Homo sapiens: one gene and its partners. The protein of the gene in region 1 interacts with the protein of each later gene in a pairwise test. Each region holds a gene or a part of one and is shown on either strand. Other genes may lie near its edges. The genes, in order: C22orf39, SPRED1, RIMBP3, BANP, PSMA1, CEP76 and CRYBA2.

Evidence for each region.
Region 2: the proteins of C22orf39 (region 1) and SPRED1 interact in binary tests that used the Homo sapiens proteins (3 or more experiments, as listed by UniProt).
Region 3: the proteins of C22orf39 (region 1) and RIMBP3 interact in binary tests that used the Homo sapiens proteins (3 or more experiments, as listed by UniProt).
Region 4: the proteins of C22orf39 (region 1) and BANP interact in binary tests that used the Homo sapiens proteins (3 or more experiments, as listed by UniProt).
Region 5: the proteins of C22orf39 (region 1) and PSMA1 interact in binary tests that used the Homo sapiens proteins (3 or more experiments, as listed by UniProt).
Region 6: the proteins of C22orf39 (region 1) and CEP76 interact in binary tests that used the Homo sapiens proteins (3 or more experiments, as listed by UniProt).
Region 7: the proteins of C22orf39 (region 1) and CRYBA2 interact in binary tests that used the Homo sapiens proteins (3 or more experiments, as listed by UniProt).

What each region holds. Positions count from the first base shown.
Region 1 is NC_000022.11:19,442,549-19,444,711, forward strand, and holds part of C22orf39 (synaptic plasticity regulator PANTS), read right to left. Parts: intron 1,843-2,163; coding exon 1,717-1,842; 3' UTR 1-1,716. UniProt on the Homo sapiens protein: Negatively regulates long-term potentiation and modulates adult synaptic plasticity. Stabilizes the interaction of RTN4 isoform A/Nogo-A with its receptors, inhibiting clustering of postsynaptic AMPA receptors at synaptic sites.
Region 2 is NC_000015.10:38,318,836-38,322,335, reverse strand, and holds part of SPRED1 (sprouty-related, EVH1 domain-containing protein 1), read right to left. Parts: intron 96-3,500; coding exon 1-95. UniProt on the Homo sapiens protein: Tyrosine kinase substrate that inhibits growth-factor-mediated activation of MAP kinase. Negatively regulates hematopoiesis of bone marrow.
Region 3 is NC_000022.11:18,609,120-18,613,159, forward strand, and holds the start of RIMBP3 (RIMS-binding protein 3A), read right to left. Parts: upstream 2,801-4,040; 5' UTR 2,316-2,800; coding exon 1-2,315. UniProt on the Homo sapiens protein: Probable component of the manchette, a microtubule-based structure which plays a key role in sperm head morphogenesis during late stages of sperm development.
Region 4 is NC_000016.10:88,073,434-88,075,624, reverse strand, and holds part of BANP (protein BANP), read right to left. Parts: intron 1-2,191. UniProt on the Homo sapiens protein: Controls V(D)J recombination during T-cell development by repressing T-cell receptor (TCR) beta enhancer function. Binds to scaffold/matrix attachment region beta (S/MARbeta), an ATC-rich DNA sequence located upstream of the TCR beta enhancer.
Region 5 is NC_000011.10:14,513,887-14,517,386, forward strand, and holds part of PSMA1 (proteasome subunit alpha type-1), read right to left. Parts: intron 606-3,500; coding exon 517-605; coding exon of another isoform or gene 467-516; exon of another isoform or gene 24-466; intron 2-23; coding exon 1-1. UniProt on the Homo sapiens protein: Component of the 20S core proteasome complex involved in the proteolytic degradation of most intracellular proteins. This complex plays numerous essential roles within the cell by associating with different regulatory particles.
Region 6 is NC_000018.10:12,692,724-12,696,223, forward strand, and holds part of CEP76 (centrosomal protein of 76 kDa), read right to left. Parts: intron 2,629-3,500; coding exon 2,531-2,628; intron 1-2,530. UniProt on the Homo sapiens protein: Centrosomal protein involved in regulation of centriole duplication. Required to limit centriole duplication to once per cell cycle by preventing centriole reduplication.
Region 7 is NC_000002.12:218,990,623-218,994,762, forward strand, and holds the start of CRYBA2 (beta-crystallin A2), read right to left. Parts: upstream 2,801-4,140; 5' UTR 2,555-2,800; coding exon 2,394-2,554; intron 1,622-2,393; coding exon 1,480-1,621; intron 373-1,479; coding exon 230-372; intron 1-229. UniProt on the Homo sapiens protein: Crystallins are the dominant structural components of the vertebrate eye lens.

The DNA of each region.
Region 1 (2,163 bases):
CATGCAGGCTGCAAACTCATTTTATTATTTTATCTTTGAGACAAGAGTCTCACTCTGTCGCCCAGGCTGGAGTACAGTGGCACGATCTCAGCTCACTGCAACCTCTGCCTCTGGGGTTCAAGCAATTCTCCTGTCTCAGCTTCCCGAGTAGCTGGGATCACAGGCACGTGCCACCATGCCCAGTTAATTTTTGTATTTTTAATAGAGATGGGGGGTTTCAACCATGTTGGCCAGGCTGGTCTCAAACTCCAGACCTCAAGTGATCCACCCACCTTGGCCTCCCAAAGTGCTGGGATTACAGCAGACTGCAAATTCAGATGCCCCGTCCCTGTGTTTAAGAGTAAGAAAAACCTTGTAGATCTCTAGCAGTCTTCCTCTCTTCCCTCACTGGGTGGAAATGCTCATTATTAAACCAGCCACAGCCATGCTGGAGGCACCCTGGTTGCCTTAGACACATCAGTACTCCCCTGATGATGGGGGAACGCTGGCTCCTCTTTAGATGCTCCTGCTCTTGGGATCCCGTGAGCACAACCCCCACCCCCACCCCCACTGTTCACAGACACAGGGGCTCTTAGGGAGCACAGGAGAAAACACACTCAAGCAGGGAAATACTGTTCTTTAATGGACACCCTTCTAACGTGATAGATTATTCTGCCCCAAAGAACAAATTAAAAGATATTCAACTTGCTGCCTGTGTCCAGGAAGAGAGCAGGGAGGGTGCTGGGCACAGACCCAGCCTAGCCCTCAGCATCACACAACAGGGCCACCATAGGATGAGAAACCATTCTATTAGTAATAAACAGACCTCTTCAAGAAATAGTGTTTTTGGTGGTTCATACATTTTAAAACACTTAACAAGAGAATAAGCATACAAATTTCTAATACTGTCCAGGTACAACACTGTTACACACAAAATCTAACAAGTGTGAACTTAATTTTCAGCTTCTATTTGAAATCAGATGAAATAGCTTTTGATACATTAACCACCAGGGGAAATTTTGAGGGAAGGAGTGCTTAATTCCATATGTCTTGGACTTGGATTTCTTCAGCTGAGTCCACAAACCCTCTTTATGCAAGGTTGTGTGTTCTGTAGCTGTGTGCATTTCTTAAAAACCAGAGTCTCCAGGGGCCGACCTGGGAGCCTAAGAAGTGAAGCCTGCTGGTGCAGAGGGGCCAGCAAGCCCTACCTGCTCGGCACACCTGCCTGCATGTGCAGTGGAACTGAGCGAGTGGAGCAGAGTGTGAGCACTCACAATGCTCACCAAACCTGGGACGTGGCAGGCAGTTTCCCAAGGACTAGGAAAGACATTCACAGTGGCACAACTGTTTAGCTACCTCATTATGACCCACCTGTGTGTCCACACAGGTCAGGGCTACCCTTCAGTTTACCTGAGAAGCCTAGACCTCAGGACCGCCATCTCCTATGCTACCATGCCCAGCCTGACCTGGCTGCTCACAAGTACCTGCCATAATGCTTGGCCTCCTGGAAGCTCTAAAGCGGTGCAATTGTCCTGCAGAACATCGCAGTGTCAGGGTATCCTGCATGCAGGTGAGGGGTGGGCAAGTAGGGCTAGCAATGTCCTGCTCCATGTTCCTGTGAGCAAGAGCTCACAGGGACCCACCAGACTGTGTAGGCTGGTCACAGTCCCCAGGGCTGTGCAACAGCAACTTGAAACAGACTGAGGAAGCTGCACAGGCCAATGGCAGGGATGCTTGTCACTCGTCCTTCTCCTGTGGCAGAGGGAGATGCCAGTCTGGAGGGGGGCTCTGCCTCGGGGCCCACACCAGGATGTGCTTCCGTGCAGCCCGGACTCGTGCCCGCTCGCTCTCACAGAGGGATTGCTGTGCAAATGAGACTCTAGTCACTCCCCAGGCTCTGAGCACCCTCAAGACCCCTGTACCTCCCCCCTCTCATCACCCTCTGAAACACAGATGGACAGGCAGGGCCTATGGTACACACCACTCTGCAGCACAGCTGCTTCCACCTACTATACCTTGGCGATTCTTCCATATTAGCGCACAGAGATGGAGATCATTTTTTTTCTCACAAGCTACTGTGAAAAACTACTGAATAGGTCATAATAATTTGAGGAATTTTTAAATATCTTCTCCTGGACCTCAGGGCTCAATGGCTCTGGTTGACCTCGTGAGTCTGGGGCATAT
Region 2 (3,500 bases), on another chromosome or scaffold:
AGACCAAACTTCTTGTCATCAATCTTCCAGTGGTGAAATGTTGGAGTGACCTTATTATAAATGAGGTCTTTTTTAAGCATACATTCCAAAACCACCTGACAAAAGCCAAATACCAAAAATTAATATACATATATCAAATGCATCTAATGTAGCTCATAAATACAAACTGAGGTGATACAACGCTATTACTTTTTAATGAATAATTTTTAGTATTTTAAATAAAGTGGTCTACTTCACAAAGTCACTCAATAAAGAGATTAAGATGGAATAAAAAAATGCACATTATAAACAGGATGCTTATTATACTCCCATTTTAAGAATACACACATATATACACTCCCATTGCATACAAAATTTCTGGAGGAATATATCAGGAATTACTTCCAGGAAACAGGCAGGGGGTTGGTAATAATAGAAATTTAACTTTTTAAAGTCATTTTTGGCTGGGGGCAGTGGCTCACACCTGTAATCCCAGCACTTTGGGAGGCCGAGGCGGGCGGATCACTTGAAATCAGGAGTTTGAGACCAGCGTGGCCAACATGGTGAAACCCCATCTCTACTAAAAATATAAAAAATTAGCTGGGTGTGGAGGTACATGCCTGTAATCCCAGCTACTCAGGAGGCTGAGGCAGGAGAATCGTCTGAGCCCAGGAGGTGGAGGTTGCAGTGAGTTGAGATCACGTCACTGCACTCCAACCTGGGCAACACAGTGAGACTTTGTCTCAAAAACAAAACAAAACAAAATAAAGTCATTTTCCTAAACTTCTTAAAAGACGTATTTATATTTTGTGTAAGGATTTAATGGTCACAGCAGTAAAACAAATACACTTGGCCACTTTTTCAAAATATGCATTTAAGTGAGTTACCTAACTTTTGAAGCCTTAGTTTACTCATCTGTAAAACAGAAATTGCAGTACTAAAATATCCCAGAGCTTAGAGTGGAATGACCGAATGTGCATTCATGTTAAGAGCTTCATGCAATGCATGAAGCAATATACCCTTGGTTTTTAAATTTTTTATTTTGAAAGTATTTCAAATTTGTAGAAAAGTAACAAGAATAACACAGAAAATTCCTGTTTTCCCTTTATCCAGATTTATCACATTAATTTTTAACATTCTCTCCACATATATCCATGTATAAACATTTAATTTACTTTATTATGAACTATTTCAAAGGAGTTACATATATTATGTTCTACTGCTCTTTAATACACACTTGAGTATATTTCCTAAGTGCAATACTATTCTCTTATGTAATCACAGTATGGTGATCTCATTCAGGAAATTTAAAACCAACACAGAACTTTAATCTATAGACCATGTTCCATAGACCACGTTCCACTTTTGCCTACTATACTAATAACACCTTTTAGAGCATTTTAAAAATCCTTCCAGTATAGGATCCATTCCAGGACAGTTATAAGGTCTCTTCAGTCTTTCGTTCCTGGGCCTGTCTTTCATCATATTCACAGTATGCTTTTAATATATGTTAGTTGTCAAATAAAACAAAAGTGGATATATTAGTGATCTTTGCAATTAATCTAATAAAAAGACTAGAACTACACACCTTAATTATTTTAAGAATCCCCTATAAGAAAACAGGAGGAAAAGAATTAAAAATAATTCAAATGAAACCCATAGTAGCACATGACACATAATAAATGCTCAGCTGGTATTTGGTGAAAGGTTGTATTTTCATTACCTCCACTCTTTTCCAATCACCATTATCACTTGCACATCTCTTCCATGCACTGCTGATGATCCCCTCAGATATTACTAGTAGTAGTGAATTACTAATAGTAATTGCACTACTCTGCAGGTAGAGTAATAATTTTTCTTAAAAAAAAATAGCAACTTTACTGGACCACTCCCTAGTTTCAATGTCTTTTCAATGCTTTCAAGACTAAAATTCTTACTATGACCTACTAGGCCCTGCATGAGCTGGTCTTTGTCTGTTTGCCAAATCCTTAAACTACAGTGGCAGACAAACATTAGGTACTCAACCAATACTTCTCCTCAGAAATCTTTTAGGCTTTATGCACTTCCCAAGGAACTCATTCACAGATCATGGACTAGGAATCTCTAATTTATACTTTTGGAGGGGAGGTCTGCTAGAGTCTGCTTATACTGGCTCCCAAGAGCCAGATATTAAATTTTCAAGAATTTTGGAAGCCATTGTTAAAAGCTAGAATATATAACTCTACAATGAAATAAATTGCATTAAAAATAAAATAATAAATACACAAAACTCATCAGTTCCTAATTATTTTACTATATTTTTACAATTACCTAGGTTCTTGAGGTAGTTTATGTCTGTCATATCTGTACGGTGGAAATACTATATAATGCCACACTGCTGCTCATTTCTTCCCAATGCTATATGCAATGATGGCATGTTGAGTAAAAGCAGCCATGGTAGAGGTATGTAAATGCTATAAATCATTGACTTGTGTCCCCTCTTGAAAGCTGATTGTTAAACCTTTTATCAGCATACCACTGAATATAATAATTCTTGGTAGTAAGTTTTATTAATTCAGAAATAACCAAAAATGTGACTAAGGTTCAGTCCTGCCCGTTTATAGGCAATGCAGTGAAATTCTCTCAAGACTTTTGCTTCCTATACTTTGATGACTCTATGTGTATTAGAAAAGAATTAACCGCCAGGCACAGTGGCTCACGCCTGTAATCCCAGCCCTGTGGGAGGCTGAGGCGGGTGGATCAACTGAGGTCAGGAGTTCAAGACCATCCTGACCAACATAGTGAAACCCGTCTCCACTAAAATACAAAAATTAGCCGGGCGTGGTGGTGGGAACCTGTAATCTCAGCTACTCGAGAGGCTGAGCCAGGAGAATCACTTCAACCTGGGAGGCAGAGGTTGCAGTGAGCCGAGATCATGCCATTGCACTCCAGCCTAGGCAGCAAGAGTAAAACTCTGTCTCAAAAAAAGAAAATAATTTACATGTATCCAGAGCTTTTTTGAGTCGGCACTTTGCTAAAGCATTTTACACAGATTTACTATTAAATATTTGTTACAACCATTTTGCAACAACAACAACAATTCACGATTAAGTTCTAGAATTCAAGGGGAAGTAAATGGTAGTGTCATAAATTACTGCAACATTTATACTATATTCATAAACAGTGGGAAAAGCAGTATTTTGTAAAACAATGCTAAATTGGAATTGTTAAAAAGGGGAAGACATAAAAACAGTTTGATTCTAGTTTTTTAATATATAATAATAACACCAAATTAATTTTTAATACATGAAAATATTACTGAATTAGCCCCCTCTTCTATTTTACAAAATTAATATTTTCAACTATTAACTCTCAAATAAAATTTCAATGTGATCTACCCTAATCTTGTCTTCAAATGGCATCTATTGTTTAGAGCCTCCCAACACTCACAGAAAAAGTAGTTTTAAAAATAAGTTCAAGCACTATTCACAATAGCAAAGACATGGAATCAACCTAGGTGTCCATCAATGGTGGATTAAATA
Region 3 (4,040 bases), 830 kb from region 1:
CTGGCAGGGACTGTCTCTGAAACTTGGGGGACACTGGCTGACTCCCCAAGGGCAACTGGGCTCTCCTCGAGGGAGGCTTCCCTTTTCTCCTGTATGTCTCTGTTGGGCTGTGACACTGCGTAGTCTTCAGGCCGTGCGTGGAACTTGGGCCTTCTGCTACCTTTAACTTGGGACTCCGGCATTTGACTGGTCTCCCAGGGCTGTTCAGGAGGGTGACCAGGCCGACACTGGAGCGCCTGTATCTCCTTCCAGGAAGGATGGAGGTCACACAGGGCCTTCTGCGGGTCGCGTTGCAGCTGCTGCTGCCTGTCCTGCCCGCGCGCCGCCTGCTGCAGCAGCTGTTCGGCGATCAAGCCGGAGGCATCGCGCTCTTGACACGCGCGGCCCAGGTGGCCGCGCACTTCGCTATTCTCAGCCTCCACCTTCCGCACCCAGTCGGTCTTGGCCTGCAGCCGCCCATTCTCCTCCGCCAGCCAGGCGTTTTTGAGCAGCGCCGCCTGCAGCTGTGTCTCGGCCTCCTCGCCACGTCGCCGCGCCGGGGCCGCCTGCGCGCCCAGCTCCTGGCACTCGCGCCGCCGCTGGTCCAGCTCGCGCTCCAGCGCCAGCATCTGCCGTCGCACCTCCTCGCAGGTTGCGCTCTGGCCGCCCGCCTCGGGCCAAGCGCCACCGTTGCCCTGCTGAAGCATCAACTGCCTCTGCAGGCGCAGCACTTCCCGCTGGGACTCGCGCTGCAGGCGGTCTAAGTCTCTGACGTTGAGCCACTGGGTGCAGGGGCCGCCCCTTCCAGTATGCAGGTCGCTGCAGGGACCCGAGGCGACACGCGCCTGCAGGAGGTGGCACTCCTGCCGCAGCTCTTCGATCTGCTTGTCCTTGGCCAGCGGCGCGCTCGCCTGCTCCGACAGGTCCCGAGCGCGCTGGCGGGCAAAGACTTGGCACAGCTCCAGGCCGGCGCAACTCTCGCCGGGTATAGGCGCGCTCACGGCCCGGAGGTTGGTCTCCTGCAGCTTGCGGGCGCGGTCAGCTAGGCGCCGCGCGAGCCCGGTCAGCTCCGCGCGCTTTACCTTGAGCCGCTTCACCTTCTCGTCTGCCTGGTAGGGGCAGCCTGCACGCCGCAGCTGCTTGTTCTCCGCTTGCAGGGTATAACAGCGGCGCGCCAGCACCCACAACGCCTTGGCCAGCAGCCAGTTCAGCTTTATCAGCTCGTGGTGGCCCAGGCCCGGGGGTGAGGGAGTCAGGACTTCGCAGGGCTGGCTCTCAGAGCCTTCTCCTCCCCGCGGGTTGCTGAGTTTCCTGTGGGCTGACGGTGGTGGTGGCGGCGGGAGTGGCGATGGTGGCGGCGAGAGCCTCCGGGAGCCAGGGGTGGAGGTGTCTGGTGAGGAGGGCCGCTCCTCGGATTTGGAGGCCTTGGGGAGGCTCCGGGTGCTGTCAAGCGAGCGGGAACACGCAGGTGCGAAGCAATCAAGGGAGCTGGCGTGCGTGGAGAGCAGGCCGTCTGGGGAGCTGGAGCACGCAGAGGACACCAGGCCTAGCGAGCGGGAGCGCACACCGACTTCAGCACTCAGGCTGTCTAGAGATCCGAGTTGGCAGGCGGGTTTGGGGGCGTGGCAAGAGCCGCTGGAGGTCTGGGGCAGCGGTTCTTCCAAGGAATGCACAGCTTGGGGGTCCGGTGATCCCGACAAAGCCGGGTGCCCGCGGAAGTGCGCCAGGATGTACTTGAGGAAGAGCTGGCGCTCCACCTCCAGCGCCGCCTGCAGATAGCGGATGCGCGCCGCCTGCTCGCCGTCAGTCTGCCAGCGAAGCTGCGCCAACACTTCCTGCAGGCGACAGCGGCACTGCGCCGCGGAAACCTCGGACGCCCCCGGGCGGCTACAGTGGCCGCGGTTCACCAGCTCCTCGGCCAGCTGGCGCTGCAGCTCCCGGGCTTGGCGCACCACGCCATCGCGCTCCCGGTGCAGCAGCTGCTGCAGCTGCCGCTGCTCGGCCTCCTTCCAGCGCAGCAGCTGCCGGATCTCGGCCTCGCGTTCCCGCTGCATCTCCTCTTGCAGCTGCCGCAACTCCCGGCTGCGCTGTGCCTCCCACTTGGAGCGCAGACGGTCAGCCAGCTGTCGCCGCTCCCGCTCGGCCTCCTCACGCAGCTGGCGCTCCCGGGCAGCGAAGCGCCGCCGTTCCGCCCGCCAGCCTGCCCGCTCCGCCTCCAGCTCCGCCCGTAGCTTCTCCAGCTCCCGCCTCTGGTTCTCCAGCACTGCCGCCGCCGGGCTGGAGCAGCCCGGCTTCTTGGGCGACGCGCCCAAGGGGCTGGGCGAGTCCTTGGCCATTGCGGCCGCGGCCCGGCTGGTCTCCAGACTTCGCCTGGCAGGCCTCAGCTCGCCAACGGCCGCCGCCGACCGCCCGGCGCGCCCCTTCCGGCGCCCCCTGGGGGTCTCCGCGTGCCCCTTCCGCCTCTTGGCATGTTCCCCCGCCTCCTGCCGCGGATGTCTGGCCCAGGCGCCTCTCCACCTGGCAAGGCCAGGGCTGGACTCCCACACCCCTGCTCAAACTGGCCCATGTCCCTTCCAGGATGCACGGGGGCTTTTCCGGTCCCTACACTTTTCCTGCTTCTAGCACCAAGTCCCTTGTGACCCTCCCCAGGCACCCTCCCAGGCACTGTGCAGTCCCAAGCAGGCCGCGGTGCCCCGAGGGAAGTCTGGGCTGCTGCTCCTGTACTTGGAGAAAGGGGCAGGGTGTGTGTGTTAAGGCCACCCATGGGGTGTGGGCATACCTGGTCGTGGGTTCAGGTGGTGTATTTGGGTCAGGTGGCTGGAAAATGCAGCAGGATAGGCCTCAACTTGGCTAGACCTGGACTCCCCAGGACCCTTCAGCCCCCTAACAGCCCTGATCACCCAACTGGTCATCCACCTTTTGAGGAAAGGATGTGCCTGATACACATTTGTGTTACTGCGCAGAGTCGGCTCAGAGGAGGTGTAAGCGAAAAGACCCTCCCCAGCAAGGTGGCATAGGGACCCAGGGCCAGATAGGCATGAGGGGCACTGCCCAAACTGGCCATCTGGCCTGTCTACCTCCCACATCCAGGTACCACCTGGTGACAAACACTGGAGCCCCAGTGTCTGGGCTACTCATTGGCATCTTAGGTAGAGGCCTCAGGATGGGCCAGGAGTGAGGGTGAGGCTTCAGCAGAAATGTTGGAGGCATCCTGAGCTGCAGAAGAAACACACACACACACACACACACACACACACACACACACACAGCTGCAGAAGAAACATACACACACACACATACTGAGCTGAAGGAATACACACATACACTGAGCTGCAGAAGAAACATACATACACACACTGAACTGAAGAAATACACACACACACACACACACACACACACACTGCCTCTCTGACTGGTGGCCACCTGTGTGGCTTGGGAGCTAAGAAGCCCTGCTTCAGTCTGGCTCCTCTTTGCCCTTCCTGTCTGCTCCTGGTGCCAAGTGGCTTTTGGGAGACATGGATGGACACCTGATACCTGGCAGTCTGCATCGAGACATTGATTTTTTTTTTTTTGAGATGGGGCCCCACTCTGTCGCCAGGCTGGAGTGCAGTGGCGCAATCTTGGCTCATTGCAACCTCTACCTTCCACGTTCAAGAGATTCTCCTGCCTCAGCCTCCCAAGTAGCTGGGATTACAGGCTTGAGCCACCATGCCCAGCTAATTTTTTGTACTTTTTAGTAGAGACAGGGTTTCAGTATGTTGGCCAGGATGGTCTTGAACTTCTGACCTCAAGTGATCCACCCGCCTCGGCCTCTTAAAGTGCTGCGATTACAGGCATGAGCCACTGTGCCCGACAAGACCTTGATATTGAAGTCACATCAGAGGCCCCTTTGCTTCTTGGTCTGTCGTGTCTCCCTGTCCCCAGGAAGCACCTGGGACCTCTCACAACTGCTGTGTTCACTCAGCTTATGGCCCTCCTTTACAACACTCAAGTTTTTCAAATCAGTTTCCCCGGAACCCACAGAACATGCCTTTAGGCAGTGTCAAGTAACAAGAACATCG
Region 4 (2,191 bases), on another chromosome or scaffold:
GGAAGGCACAGGAACCACAAAGGAAGAGCCAGGAGAAGCCACGAGCCCACGGCCGAGCCCACGGGAGGAAGAGGCCTGGCAACTTCTACTCTAGTTAAGGTCCTGCTTCATTTTATTTTTTAGAGATAGGGTCTTGCTCTGTTGCCCAGGTTGGAGTGCAGTAGTGCAAGCACACCTCACGGCCGCCTCGACCTCATGGGCCCAAGTGATCCTCCCACCTCAGCCTCCCAAGTAGCTGGGACCACCAGTGCACACCACCACGCCCGGCTAAATTTTTTTGAGACGGAGTCTCACTCTGTCACCTAGGCTGGAGCACAGTGGCGCAATCTCGACTCATTGCAACCTCCGCCTCCCGGGTTCAAGCAGTTCTCCTGCCTCAGCCTCCCGAGCAGCTGGGATTACAGGCACCTGCCACCATGCCTGGCTAATTTTTGTATTTTTAGTAGAGATGGGGTTTCACCAGGTTGAGCAGGCTGGTCTCGAACTCCTGACCTCAGGTGATTGGCCTGCCTCAGCCTCCCAAAATGCTGGGATTACAGGCGTGAGCTACCGTGCCCGGCCCCAGCTAATTTTTTTACGTTTTGTAGAGATGGGGGTCTCGCTACGTTGCCCAGGCTGGTCTTGAAGTCCTGGGCTCAAGCAACGCCCCTGCCTCGGCCTCACAAAGCACTGGGATTACAGGCATGAAACACTGCACCTGGTCCAGGTTGTGCTTTTTCAAGACAAATGTCAAATGACACTCGATATACTGTTCCCTGGATGGAGGAGGGGCCTTCCAGGGTAGGATGAGGGGTCAGTATGAGGACTGTCTCCTGCGAGCCCGGCCACAGCTGGGAAGGCCTAACGGGAAGGGGTGAACCTCAGCTGGAATGGAGGAGCCACACCAGGGCCCTGGGGTGGGTGGCTGAAGGCCATGGGAGGTTGGGGTAGGGGGGCCACCGCCTGGGATGCAAAGCCCCTTCCCCCAGACAGCTGGAAAGGCAGCTGGGGACTTGGGTGGGTGGGGACAGTGGGGCACAGGTCTGGGCTGGCTGGGACTCACTTGCCCTCCAAGGACAGTGGCCAGACCTGTGTTCTGGGCAGAGGCTGGTGGAGGTGCTGCCTCTGCTACAGATGGTTCAGGGAGCCTGTGACACCCACAGGCCACCGCGCATTAAGACAAGTGTCTTCCCCTGCAAATGGCACCCCCCTACCCTCCCAACCCACTGCTCCAGGGAACAGGCCCCACTCTCCACTTTGAGGATTGGCCACCCCCACAGGCCAGCTACCTGCCTTCCCTCCTAAGGGAACCCATCTTCTCAGAGCCAGGCCCTCACAGCTGAGCCACAGGTTTTCCTAGAACGAGCTCAAGCGCGTGACCCTGCTCTGACCCATGCAAGATGCAAGACCATTCCCAAGCATGACTGGGGTGGGGGCTTCATGTGGATAAGGAGGCTCAACCAGAAACCTGTCTCTGTTGGGTGCAGTCACGCCTGCAGAGTCACCATGAAGGCCTTCGGTCACTTCCCAGTGGGGCAGAGCTAGCCTGAGGACAAGCTGAGATGGTAAGGCAGAGAGCTGGGCCCTTGGTGACAAGCTAACGCACCCTGCAGTTGTCTGGCCTCAGATGGGCAAACCCGCTCACCACCAAGTCCAACCACGCTGGGGTTTTCTGCAGGGAAAGCGGCCCCTTAAGCACGCCGTCTTCCTTGGCTGTTACGATGGATCCTAATTAAATCATTCACCTGGGGCCTGCCAGGAGGGCATGGTAACAGAGAGAGCTTACAGGAAGCTAGGGGTGTAAACACCAACCATGGGACACAGGTTTGTTCAATTCTGAAATCGGAAAATGACCAGAAACTTATAATGCAGCAGGACGCCCTCAGGCATGGCCCCCACATCTAGTTTCCTGGGCGCGGACCTCACTGCCCTCCTGCAGCGCTCCTATCTGGAACGGCACGGGGGGCTGCCACGCGTCCTCGGCAGGGGCTGAGGCAGCCACGCCTGACTGTTCTTCACGGACAGGCCAAGGTTCACACCACATAAAATAAGCGCTGCCGAACGAGTTTGCCTTCACCATCCCACCCACCCGCTCCTCACTGCCTGTGCGTTCTGCGCCCATGGCCCTCACCGTGCTTCCAGCGCATCTCCAGTGAGGTCGGCGACAATGTGGAACCAAACACCACGCAGAGTACAGGGCGCGCCTCTGCGG
Region 5 (3,500 bases), on another chromosome or scaffold:
TCTTAGACTGGTTAACGAGCTTGTTTTAACAAGGAATGAAGTACTGTCTTTATTTTCAAATTATACATTATTAACAAAGGTCTCTGGCTTATTCTTTAATTGTTGCATAATCCACCAGAGAAATAATGCAATAGGACACTATTTCTTTGGCCTAATATAAAATGTTTGACTTTCTACCGAACCTAAGAAAGAGTGCCAGCAAAATAATTTCTTCCCATCTAAAACCTGATTTGTTTTGGATACAAGGGGTCTAGGATTTCTTGGGACATCTAGAACCATTAAGAAACTTTAAATCCCCTCTAAAAAGATGCTTAGATGATTTTCCTGAAGTTGGGCTTATTTGTGTCTAGCAAATATAAATTGCTTATAAAGGCTAATGAAAGAGCAATCCAATTTGTTGTTTTAAAGTTTTCACAATCTTACCTATGTCATATTATTATTATATTCCTAATAATTAACACAAGTATCAAAACCCTTCAAAGTTCATATCCATAAATGCTAACATAAAAAGGATACTGCTTCCAATTAGAGATACAAGACGAGACACAGGCAGTGGTCTATCGAATACAAATCTGGAATCCAAACACTCCTGACGCATAAAATTACTAAAAAAGAAACAAAAAAAGTTTAGTAATTTCAAATTATAGACAACTATTCCAATCTAAATTGTTTGATTTCACTTCAAATTCTTCCAAGCGTTTACATGGATAACATCCATATAAGAAAAACAGAAGGTAAGAAAGACATGCCTGCAAGGGTGCGTTTTTGTGCTAAACTCTGGAGCCACATAAGGTTTTTAAAAAAGACTGAAACATTTTTTAGCTCTAGAAAATCTTTGTATCAGAGCACTTATGGAACAGAGAAGAGAAGGCTGAACAAAAGAAAAACAGCAACCTCTCTTCTCTTATCCTTCCCACTGTCAGCAAGCTTGTCGTAATTCTAGATCTCGAACCAGCAAAAAGATTATCTACTCTGTCCTTTTTTCTTGAAAGCAGACTAACATTTCTCCAAAAGAGCAAATATAAGAAATGGAAAACACAGCAGGGGGGATCTTTACGTGTTTCTGCCACTGTTACTTCTATTCATAAGAAGCACTCTAGAGGAGATACTGGACACTAGCCGCTGAGTCTCACTGTTAAATCTGATGAAATTCAAGCAAGGTTAACATTGGGGAGAAGAGAATTTATGCCTATAAATAAGATAAACAAGAAATGGATATGCTCCTTTTTCTCAATGTTGCTTTGTCCAGTATATGCGTATGTCACATCTGATCATCACATGGTTGACTACAGGAACCAAGCTATTTGTTCAGTACTTATATTTAAGTCCATTTCCCAATGCTGCCTAAAAGTATACTGCCCAATATGGCAGGCAATAATCACATGTGGCTATGGAGCTCTTGAAAAGTAGCTAGACTGAATTGAGATGTACACCAAGTACAAAATAACATACCAAATTTCAAAGACTTAGTACCTAAAAACGTGCAATAACTCATTAATAAAGTTTTTATATTGATTATGTGTTGGCATGGCAATATTTTATAGATTGGGTTAAATAAAATGTTTGATAATATAATACATTTTCCATTTTGAAGAGTAGGTGGAAACCCTTAAGGCTGTCATTATATTGCTGACTTAGAGCAAGGGACTGGCTGAGTAAATTGAAATTCTTTTTTTTTTTTTTTAATACTGAGTTTCGCTCTTGTTGCCCAGGCTGGAGTGCAATGGCATGATCTCAGCTCACTGCAACCTCTGCCTCCTGGGTTCAAGCGATTCTCTTGCCTCAGCCTCCCAAGTAGCTGGGATTACAGGTGCCTGCCACCACGTTCAGCTAATTTTTTTATTTTTAGTAGAGACAGGGTTTCACCATGTTGGCCAGGCTGGTCTTGAACTCCGGACCTCAGGTGATCCACCCGCTTCAGCCTCCCAGAGTGCTGGGATTACAGGCATGAGACACCATGCTCAGCCTGAAATTCTTAAACCATAGCATTACTATTTACACTGTTTTTGCTGCTGCTGTTGTTTTAAGAATAGGGTCTCACTCGGCTAGGTGCTGTGGCTCACGCCTGTAATCCCAGCACTTTGGGAGGCCGAGGCAGGTGGATCACGAGGTCAGGAGCTCTAGACCAGCCTGGCCAATATGGTGAAACCTCGTCTCTACTAAAAATGCAAAAATTAGCCGGGTGTGGTGGCACATGCTTGTAGTCCCAGCTACTCGGGAGGCTGAGGCAGAAGAATTCCTTGAACTCTGGAGGCGGAGGTTGCAGTGAGCCGAGATCATACCACTGCACTCTAGCCTGGGCGACAGCGCGAGACTCCGTCTCAAAAAAAAAAAAAAGAATAGGGTCTCACTCTGTTGCCTACGCTAGAGTACAGTGGCACTATCATAGCTCACTGCAACCTTGAAATCCTAGGCTCAAGCAATCCTCCCACCTCAGCCTTTTGAGTAGCTAGGACAACAGGTGTGTGCCACCACACCCAGCTAAGTTTTAAAATTTTTTGTAGAGATGGGGATTCACTATGTTGCCCTGGTCTCAAATTCTTGACCTTAAGCTTCTCAAAGAGCTAGAATTATAGGTAGGAGCCACTGTGCCAGGCCCACCCTTATAATTTATATTCTTTCTTTCCTAATCAAATCACAAATTTACAAGATTAGTTTTAGCTAACTACCTGCCATCCACAACACACATACTCACATAATACCTGAAAGGCTCTGTGTTAGTGGTTTACAGTAGGCAATTTAAAATATTTAAAAATAGGCTGGGTGCAGTGGCTCACACCTATAATCCCAGCACTTTGGGAGGCTGAGGTGGGCAGATTACCTGAGGTCAGGAGTTCAAGACTAGCCTGGCCAACATGGCGAAACCCCGTCTCTACTAAAAATACAAAAATTAGCCAGGCGTGGTGGCGGGTGCCTGTAATCCCAGCTACTCGGGAGGCTGAGGCAGGAGAATCGCTTGAACCTGGGAGGTAGAGGTTGCAGTGAGCTGAGATCACACCACTGCACTCCAGCCTGGGTGAGAGTGAGACTCCATCTCAAAAAAATAAATAAATAACATTTAAAAATAGCCTTGATAAAGAAAACACTGGAAAAAATTCAGTGTTTAGGTATTTAGCCAAATCTCAGATACTAAGTGGTGAAGGTGAGAACTCAATATGTGCAATTTCAAAGCCCTATCTCTTCATTTATGTATTGCCTTTTAACCATAAATAATCTGTCTCTTCTAGACTCTCACAGAAATTTTTCTGTTATATTATAGATAAACTACATTTGAGTTTATAGATAAACTTGCCTTCAAGTTCCCTTAAGACAAGATCCATGTCTGAGTCACTTATGTATACCCTGCAGTATCCAGTATTGAGCATTGCAAAAAATAAATGTCTAATAAATACTGATGTATTGAAGAAAACAAGCACAAAGAAAACAAGTGTGGTTCAGCTTGTCCTTAGAAACCAGACAAAAGTATCACGTTCTTCTTAGACATAACAGGGTCTCAAACG
Region 6 (3,500 bases), on another chromosome or scaffold:
CTGTCTAGCTGTCTGCTGCCCTATACACAGCTACATCTCCAGTGTCTAGAACAGTGTCTAGCACATTTTGACATCTATTTAGGATCCATACATATTTCTGACTTTAATTTCTTTTAAGAGACAGGGTCTTGCTCTGTCACCCAGTCTGGAGTGCTACTGCATGATCATGGCTCACTGTAGCCTCGAATTCCTGGGCTTAAGCGATCCTCCCACCTCAGCCTCCCCAGTAGCTGGGACTACAGGAATGCACCACCATGTGCAGTTAATTTTTAAAAATTTTTGTAGAGATGAAGTCTACCTATGTTGCCCAGGCTGGTCTTGAACTCCTGGCCTGAAGTGATCCTCTTACCTTGGCCTCCCAAAGTGCTGGGATTACAGATTAATTAGCCTGGCTAAAAGTTTTAATAGTGCAATTTTAAAGAGAAAATTAGAAGCAATTTATTTATCAGATAATAGAATAAACTTATGTTTTAGTCACTAGAAATTATAAATATGACAGTGGAAATATAAGAAAATACATATAAAATAATGTTAAGTTTAAAAAGGAGAACCTGGTGGGGCACAATGGTCCATGTCTGCAATCCCAATGTTTTGGGAGGCTGAGGCAGGTGGATTGCTTGAGGCTGGGAGTCTGAGGTTTCAGTGAGCTATAATCACACCACTGCACTCAAGCCTGAGAGAGTGAGATGCTGTCTCTAAAAAAATAAAATTTAATTAAAAAAAACAAGCTACTACCCCAAAAAAGTAGAGCCCAAACATTTACTTTATATGTCACATAAATATATGAATAACATGATTAAAACTCATGTATACCACTTTGGGAGGCCGAGGCAGGCAGATCACGAGGTCAAGAGATCGAGACCATCCTGGCCAACATGGTGAAACCCTGTCTCTATTAAAAATACAAAAATTAGCTGGGCGTGGTGGCACCCACCTGTAGTCCCAGCTACTCAGGAGACTGAGGCAGGAGAATTGCTTGAACTCGGCAGGCAGACGTTGCAGTGAGCCAAGATTGCGCCACTGCACTCCAACCTGGCGACAGAGCGAGACTCTGTCTGAAAAAAACAAACAAAAAAACCCCTCACGTATACACATAATGTATATGTGTGTATACACCATTTATTTAAGAGACAGGGTCTTAGTCTGTAACCCAGGCTAGTGTGCAGTGGTACAATCACAGCTCACTGTAACCTCAAATTCCTGGGTCAAGCAATCCTCCCATTTCAGCTTCCCAAGCAGCTGGGACTACAAGTATGTACCACCATGCTTGACTAATTTTTTAAAATTTTTGTAGAGACAGGGTCTCACTATGTTGCCCAAGCTGGTCCTAAACTGCTGGACTCAAAAGTGATCCACCCACCTTAGCCTCCCACAGGGCTGGGTATTTATTTGAGTAACATCAAAGTTGGTTCTCACTATGTGGTTTCAGGTATATATACCACCCATGACACATGTCAGAAGCTAGAGATTAGAGGGAGATGAGAGTTTACAAAAGGAAGGAAAAAAAGTTTAAAGAAAACAGGGCAGGACATTGTTTGCCTGAGGGAGAAGCACTAGCGTCTAACCACAGGTCTGTAAAAGGAACAATATGACAGGCAGGGTGGAGTAAAGGGTGGTGTATGTAATCAAGGAGAACCATTCCACAAGTGCCATCCCGGCAAGTCAGCAGATAATGAGAACCTCCAAACTAAAGACTGGCAAGAACTAAACATGGATGGCAAATCCAATGTGAAGGAATGAAAAAATCTGCCGATCTTTTAAGACCCAGGAAGAAAGTAATTCATCAGAGACCTGACAGTGGAATTAGGGAAAAAAGCCTCTCCAAACACACTCTAAAAGTGGCAAGCACTTCTACCCTGAGAGAACAGAGCAGAAAAGACATAAGCAGCAAGCTTTCAATAAACGCCTGCGAAAGAACGTTAAAATCCCATCCCACTGAGGTTGCACTTTACTCTTTGATCTTCTTCAGCTTTATCCTGTAATTCTTTTTTTTTTTTTCTTTTTTTGAGATGGAGTCTTGCTCTGTTGCCCAGGCTGGAGTGCACTGGTGCGATCTGGGCTCACTGCAAGCTCCTCTTACCGGTTCACGCCATTCTCCTGCCTCAGCCTCCCGGGTAGCTGGTACTACAGGTGCCTGCCACCACGCCCGGCTATTTTTTTTTTTTGTATTTTTAGTAGAGGCGGGGTTTCACCGTGTTAGCCAGGATGGTCACGATCTCCTGACCTTGTGATCCGCCCGCCTCGGCCTCCCAAAGTGCTGGGACTACAGGCGTGAGCCACCGGCCTATCCTGTAATTCTTATGCTGTCTCAATAAATGTTCATCGTATTTCCTAAACTAGACTACAGATTCTGCTAGGAAAACAATCTTGTCTTTATTTTCTTCCTCATCCTTTTTGTGAACCTTTGAGTGCTAATCTAGAAAGTAATAAATGGTAATTTTCTAAAAATAGAGTGCTTTCTAGGATCAACAGGTAAATATACTACTATGAAAACAAACACACAAAAAAAGAGAAACTCATAAGTATTTACCTGTGTGTTCACTACTTCTTGAGATAACGTTTGATTGAGTGGTGGATACATTTCAAGTTTTATATTTAAAATTCCCACAGAAACTTTTGATTCTGTGCCTATAAACATAAATATTTTGAACTTCAGAGATTTCAATACTATATATATTTAGTCAACCAAAGTCTAACCAAAATAATTTAGGCACTTGGGTGTTTTATCACTTACATGGAATAAAGATAACATTCAACATTACCTTTAATATTCATATTAAAATGAACCAAATCAATTTTTTTAAACAAAGGTGTTTAATTATAAGGAGATTATTTTCTTAGCTTTCTGACACTCTTTTTCTTCTTTAAGTAGAGATGGGGTCTCCCTATGTTATTCAGGTTGGTCTTAAACTCCAGGGCTCAAGTGATATTCCTGCCTCAGCCTTCCAAAGTGCTTGGTGGGATTACAGGCATGAGCCACTACACCTGGCTTTTCTAACAGGTTTTAAGAAACTTTTCTGACTTAAAGGATTTGAGACTCTTAATTTTTGTCTTAATTAAATGTATAATATCAACCAGACTTACATTAAATTCAAAGTCAAAGCAACTGTTAACACCTCATTCCTTCTCCACACACACACACACACACACACACACACACACTAAAAATTAGAAAGCATTTATATTGTCACTTATAGTAACTCCCATTTGTCACTCCCCATTATCCAATTACAGGCTGAGTAGAAATTTTCAATCCATGCCTGGATTTAAAGAACTAGAAAACAAATATACTTCACATCAAAACGATTTAATGTTTCTTCAGTGAATCAGAATCTGCTTGTTTCCAGGTCACTGCTACGATTATCATGTTAGGCCTATTTTTGAAGACAAATTGGGTATTGTTTTTGAAAATAAATTTCTTACATAAAGGACACTTTTTCTATAATTTTTATTTAAAGAAAAATACATTCTTGGTATGACTTATTAAAATCTAAATTACT
Region 7 (4,140 bases), on another chromosome or scaffold:
TCATGTTCTCCAGCCCTTCATCTGTGCCCATATTGCCCGCTGCCCCCCATTCTCCTAGGACCTCCTCATTTCCTCCCTTCCAGTCTGACTCCATCATCTCCCTCCCCTTGCCTCCAAGTCCCCAATATCTCTCTTAGCGCCCTCCCCACATCACTTTTCTCCACCCTCTTCCTTGGTCCCCATTGCCTCCCTGCTCTTCTGTCTCCCTGGTTCCAGTTCCAGGACTCACGCTCCGGAGCTGACTTTGAGGGAACCCACATCCTTGCTGGCCCAGCCCATGGAGGGCAGGGATGGGTAGTCATCAACGAGGTCAAACTTGCAGCCTTGGAAGTTGTCCCCCTCAAACAGTGTCACACGGCTGTCATTGTGGTTCTGAGGCACAGCAAGATCAGGACAGAAAGATCAGGGCTTCCAAAGGGTTAACGGATACATCCTCTGCCTCACTTCCCCCACCCACTGCACCTCACAAGCTGTGAAGCTGTCTAGGACCCACAGGCACTCCCAGAGCTCACCCCATCAGCTCCCTGGCAGTCTGGGAAATGGATCGCTCAGAGGTTCCCCCGAACCTGGCCCCTCCCATGACTTTGAGATAAGGAGGTGATTGGGGGATAGGATTTCCAGAGACCCTTTCAGGTCAGGACTAGAGAGCATCTTGTGACATGGGCCCATTTTGCAGGAGCAAAATCAGAGGTCCTTAGAGAAATCTGTCCCATTCACCAAGACAGTTCCCTGAGGTCCTCATTGACTAACTACCCAAGCCCTTGCCCAGCCCCTTCGCACAGCCTCTCACAGATTAGTGCCCAGCTAAGAGGTACTGGGTGGCAGAATCAGAATAGACATGTCAGGGCATCAATACTGATTGCATCTTGGCTCCGGCCTTCCCACTGCAGGGTTCTTCAGCCTCTTGGAACAGAAGAATTGGGCTGGCCTGGGCTGGGTCCTCTGCTCTCCACTTCCCAGCCCTACTAGTAACCAGGTCGGCACAAATGGAAAATGAGGTCCTCTCTTTCGGTGTATTTGATTCATTAACAACACCCTCACACACACAATAACACACACACAAACACACTGAGACTGACTCTTTTCAGTGACCCTGGGCAAGCCACTTTGTCCCTTTGAGCCCCATTTCCACACCTGTGTATGGGGCTAACAGCAGTCAACCCGACCTCACATGGCTGTGTGACGACAGAGGCACTCACTCACACGTGTGGACGATGGAATGTGGGGGAACCCTGGGCACTCAGGACTGGGATGGCCTCAGCGCTGTCCGTGGTGATGATTTCTGGGCTCCGGGCCTACGCCCACAATCCCAACTTTCTTGGAGACACCCTTCTGATTCTGAGAAATAATGCTACTACCACCCATCTCGGAGTTTGTTTACACACACCCCATGCAGGGCTTGAACAGCCTTTCTAGGTGCCATGGTGAGGCCAGGGCCTGGAGCTAGGAGGCAGGGGAGGAGAAGTGGGCTGTGCTCACCGCGCAGAGCACTGGCCGGAAGGACAGCAGCTGGTTGCTGTTGTGGCTGCTGCTGCCACTCCAGGCGCTCCAGCGAGGATAGTCTCCCTTCTCCAGAATGAACTGCTGTCCCTGGAAGTCGGGGTACTCAAAGGCCACCCAACTGGAAAAGGAGAAGAGCTGGGAGGTATCTGCCCCAGCCGCACCCTCTCTGCCCTCCCCCTTGCCGGCCATGATTGAAAAGACTGAGAAGCACAATGTTTTTCTCCAACCCCAAACCCTTCCCCTGACACCCCCATTGTATGGCAATCCAGCCCCTCTCGGAACTAAAGGTCCAAAACCTGCTGCTTTCTGGGGTTTGAGGCGCCCAGGCTTCCCCCTCAAGGACCCCAGGTTGGGAAAGAGTTTTCCTGGTTATGAAGATCTCCCGACCCAGTGCTCCTGCCTCAAGGGTTTAGGCCTTTGCATGGGGACACATTGGAGGACCCCTCCCGAATATCACAGCAGAAACTGGGACCTCAGCTGGGGCAGGGGTAGGGGGCGGCAGGGTGGGAAAAGCTGGGCTCTGGGAGACCAGGGTGGGGCCAGGGAAAGGGATTGGGTTTCTTTTGTTAAGCCAAGTGCAGAGCCTTCTAATTTTGCACAGAGAAAAACTCTGGGAAGGGTGTAAGTACACTAGAAACCCCTTCACGGTGGGGTCCCATAGGGACCCTCAAGGGGTCGCTTCTCGCCTGTGTCTCTTTAGCTAGCACAAAAATACACAGTTTCCCATGATTTATCTTGCGATGGGTGGGGAATTTTGGGGAGGCTATGGGGTTTCCCATGTTGGCAGGTCTCTCCAGGGCTCACAGGACAGGGGGCTGAGGCTCTGAGCCTAGGCCGGTGGAACCCAGCGCCCCTCAACCCAGCCCAGCCGCGGCCAGGCAATCACTCACACGCCGTTTTCCACCTTGACCGAGCGCACCCTGGGCAGGCCTCCGCGCTCGCAGACGTTCGCACAGTCGCTTAGCAGCCGACAGCGACGGCCCTGGAAGTCCTCCTCGTCCCAGAGCGTGAGGCTGGCGGGCGCCGGGCCCGGCGCGGGGGCGCTGCTCATGCCGCTGCGGACAGGAAGGGTGGCACCACGCGCTCAGCGTCTCAAGAGCCCCGTTTCGAGCCACACACAGCCTGCCCAACCTGGGTAGCGGATGAAGAACCCGGGGGCTGGACCCGGCCTAGCTCTGGACCCGGCTGCCAGGGGCTCGCAGTCTTCCCGCGCTCCCCTCCCTTCCCCACCCCAGCAGAGGGCATTCACCGGGTGGGTGAGCGCGGCACGCGAGGGAAATGGACCGGCTGCGAGGCTGCGCGCGGCCGGGCGGGCCGAGCTTTATACCTGGGCCTTGTCCCCCTGTCCGCACCCTTTCCCTCGGGGGTGGGGTCGCTGAGTCAGCAGGCAGGCTGCGGTCGGCTCTGGTCTCCGCTGGGGAGCCGAGGCCTCTCCCGCAGCCGCCGCTGTGGCCCCAGCCCGCGGGAAAGACAACAGAAAGTGCTGAGGCGCGCACCCCGCGCCCGCCGCAGCCCAGGCTGACTCCGCGCTTTCTTTCTTTCCAGCCTGAGCCAGGCAGGGCACGCCAGGCCTCGGGGCAGAACGCGCCCTCCCTGTCCCGGCCCTCGGGGACGAAGGGACCTGGCCTCCCCTGGGCCTCGGGCTAAGACCGCGCTGCTGACTCGCTGAGCGGAAGTTCTTCCCAGAGTCTAATCGCCAGCCTTCCTCGGCCCTAGTCCAGGCCTCTCTTTTGGGCGATGCTAAGGCGGAGGTAGAGAGGGCTCTGCCCAAAGGATTCGCTTCATGTGCTCAGTCCTCTTTTTCCTGGGGGATCGGTCCATCGCGGCCCTTTTCCTCCCAAGCGTGCGTTCCCAGATCCTGCGCCGCGCCCCCGGGGTGTCCTCGGGCCCGGGAAGGAGAGGAGGCGGTGGTCAGGACTCGCCACGCGGCGGCGCCGGGCGCTGGAAACGACCGCCCGAGGGCCGCGCGGTTTACTCAGTGTTTAGGCATAATAGCCACCTAGGGAGTGGCTCGCCGCGGGAGGTAGGAAGAATGTTGGGCTTTAGCTCGGCTCAACCGGTGCCGCTGCGGGTCTCCCACAAAGCTCCAGGCTCTAAGGGTTCCAGCCTCGACGTCTGCCTGAGAGTTAGCAGCTGAGGATGAAGCGCTTAGTTCAGGCCGAGTTCTCTGCTCAGGCTTTCGGGTGCGTGAACTCCATCAATTCTAACACTGACCTGCTAGGAAGATACTGTTATTGTCCTGCATTTCGCAGATGAAGAAGTGGAGGCCCAGAGGGCTTTGGAATGTGGTGCAGGGGTCACAGCTAAGAAATCTCCCAGGGCCGGGCGCAGTGGTTCACACCTGTGATCCCAGCACTTTGGGAGGCCCAGGTGGGAGGATCTCTTGAACCCAGGAATTTGAGACCAGCCTGGGCGACATGGTGAAACCCCGTCTCTGCAAAAACAAACAAAAATTAGCCGGGCGTGTTGGCATGCGCCTGTAGTCCCAGCTACCTGGGAGCCTGAGATGGGAGAATTGCTTGAGCCCAGGAGGTGGAGGTTGCAGTGAGCCGAAATCAAGCCACTGCACTCCAGTCTGGGCGACAGAGTGAGCTGGGAAAAGGCGGCGGTGGGGGTGGGGGTGGGGGGTGTAGAGAA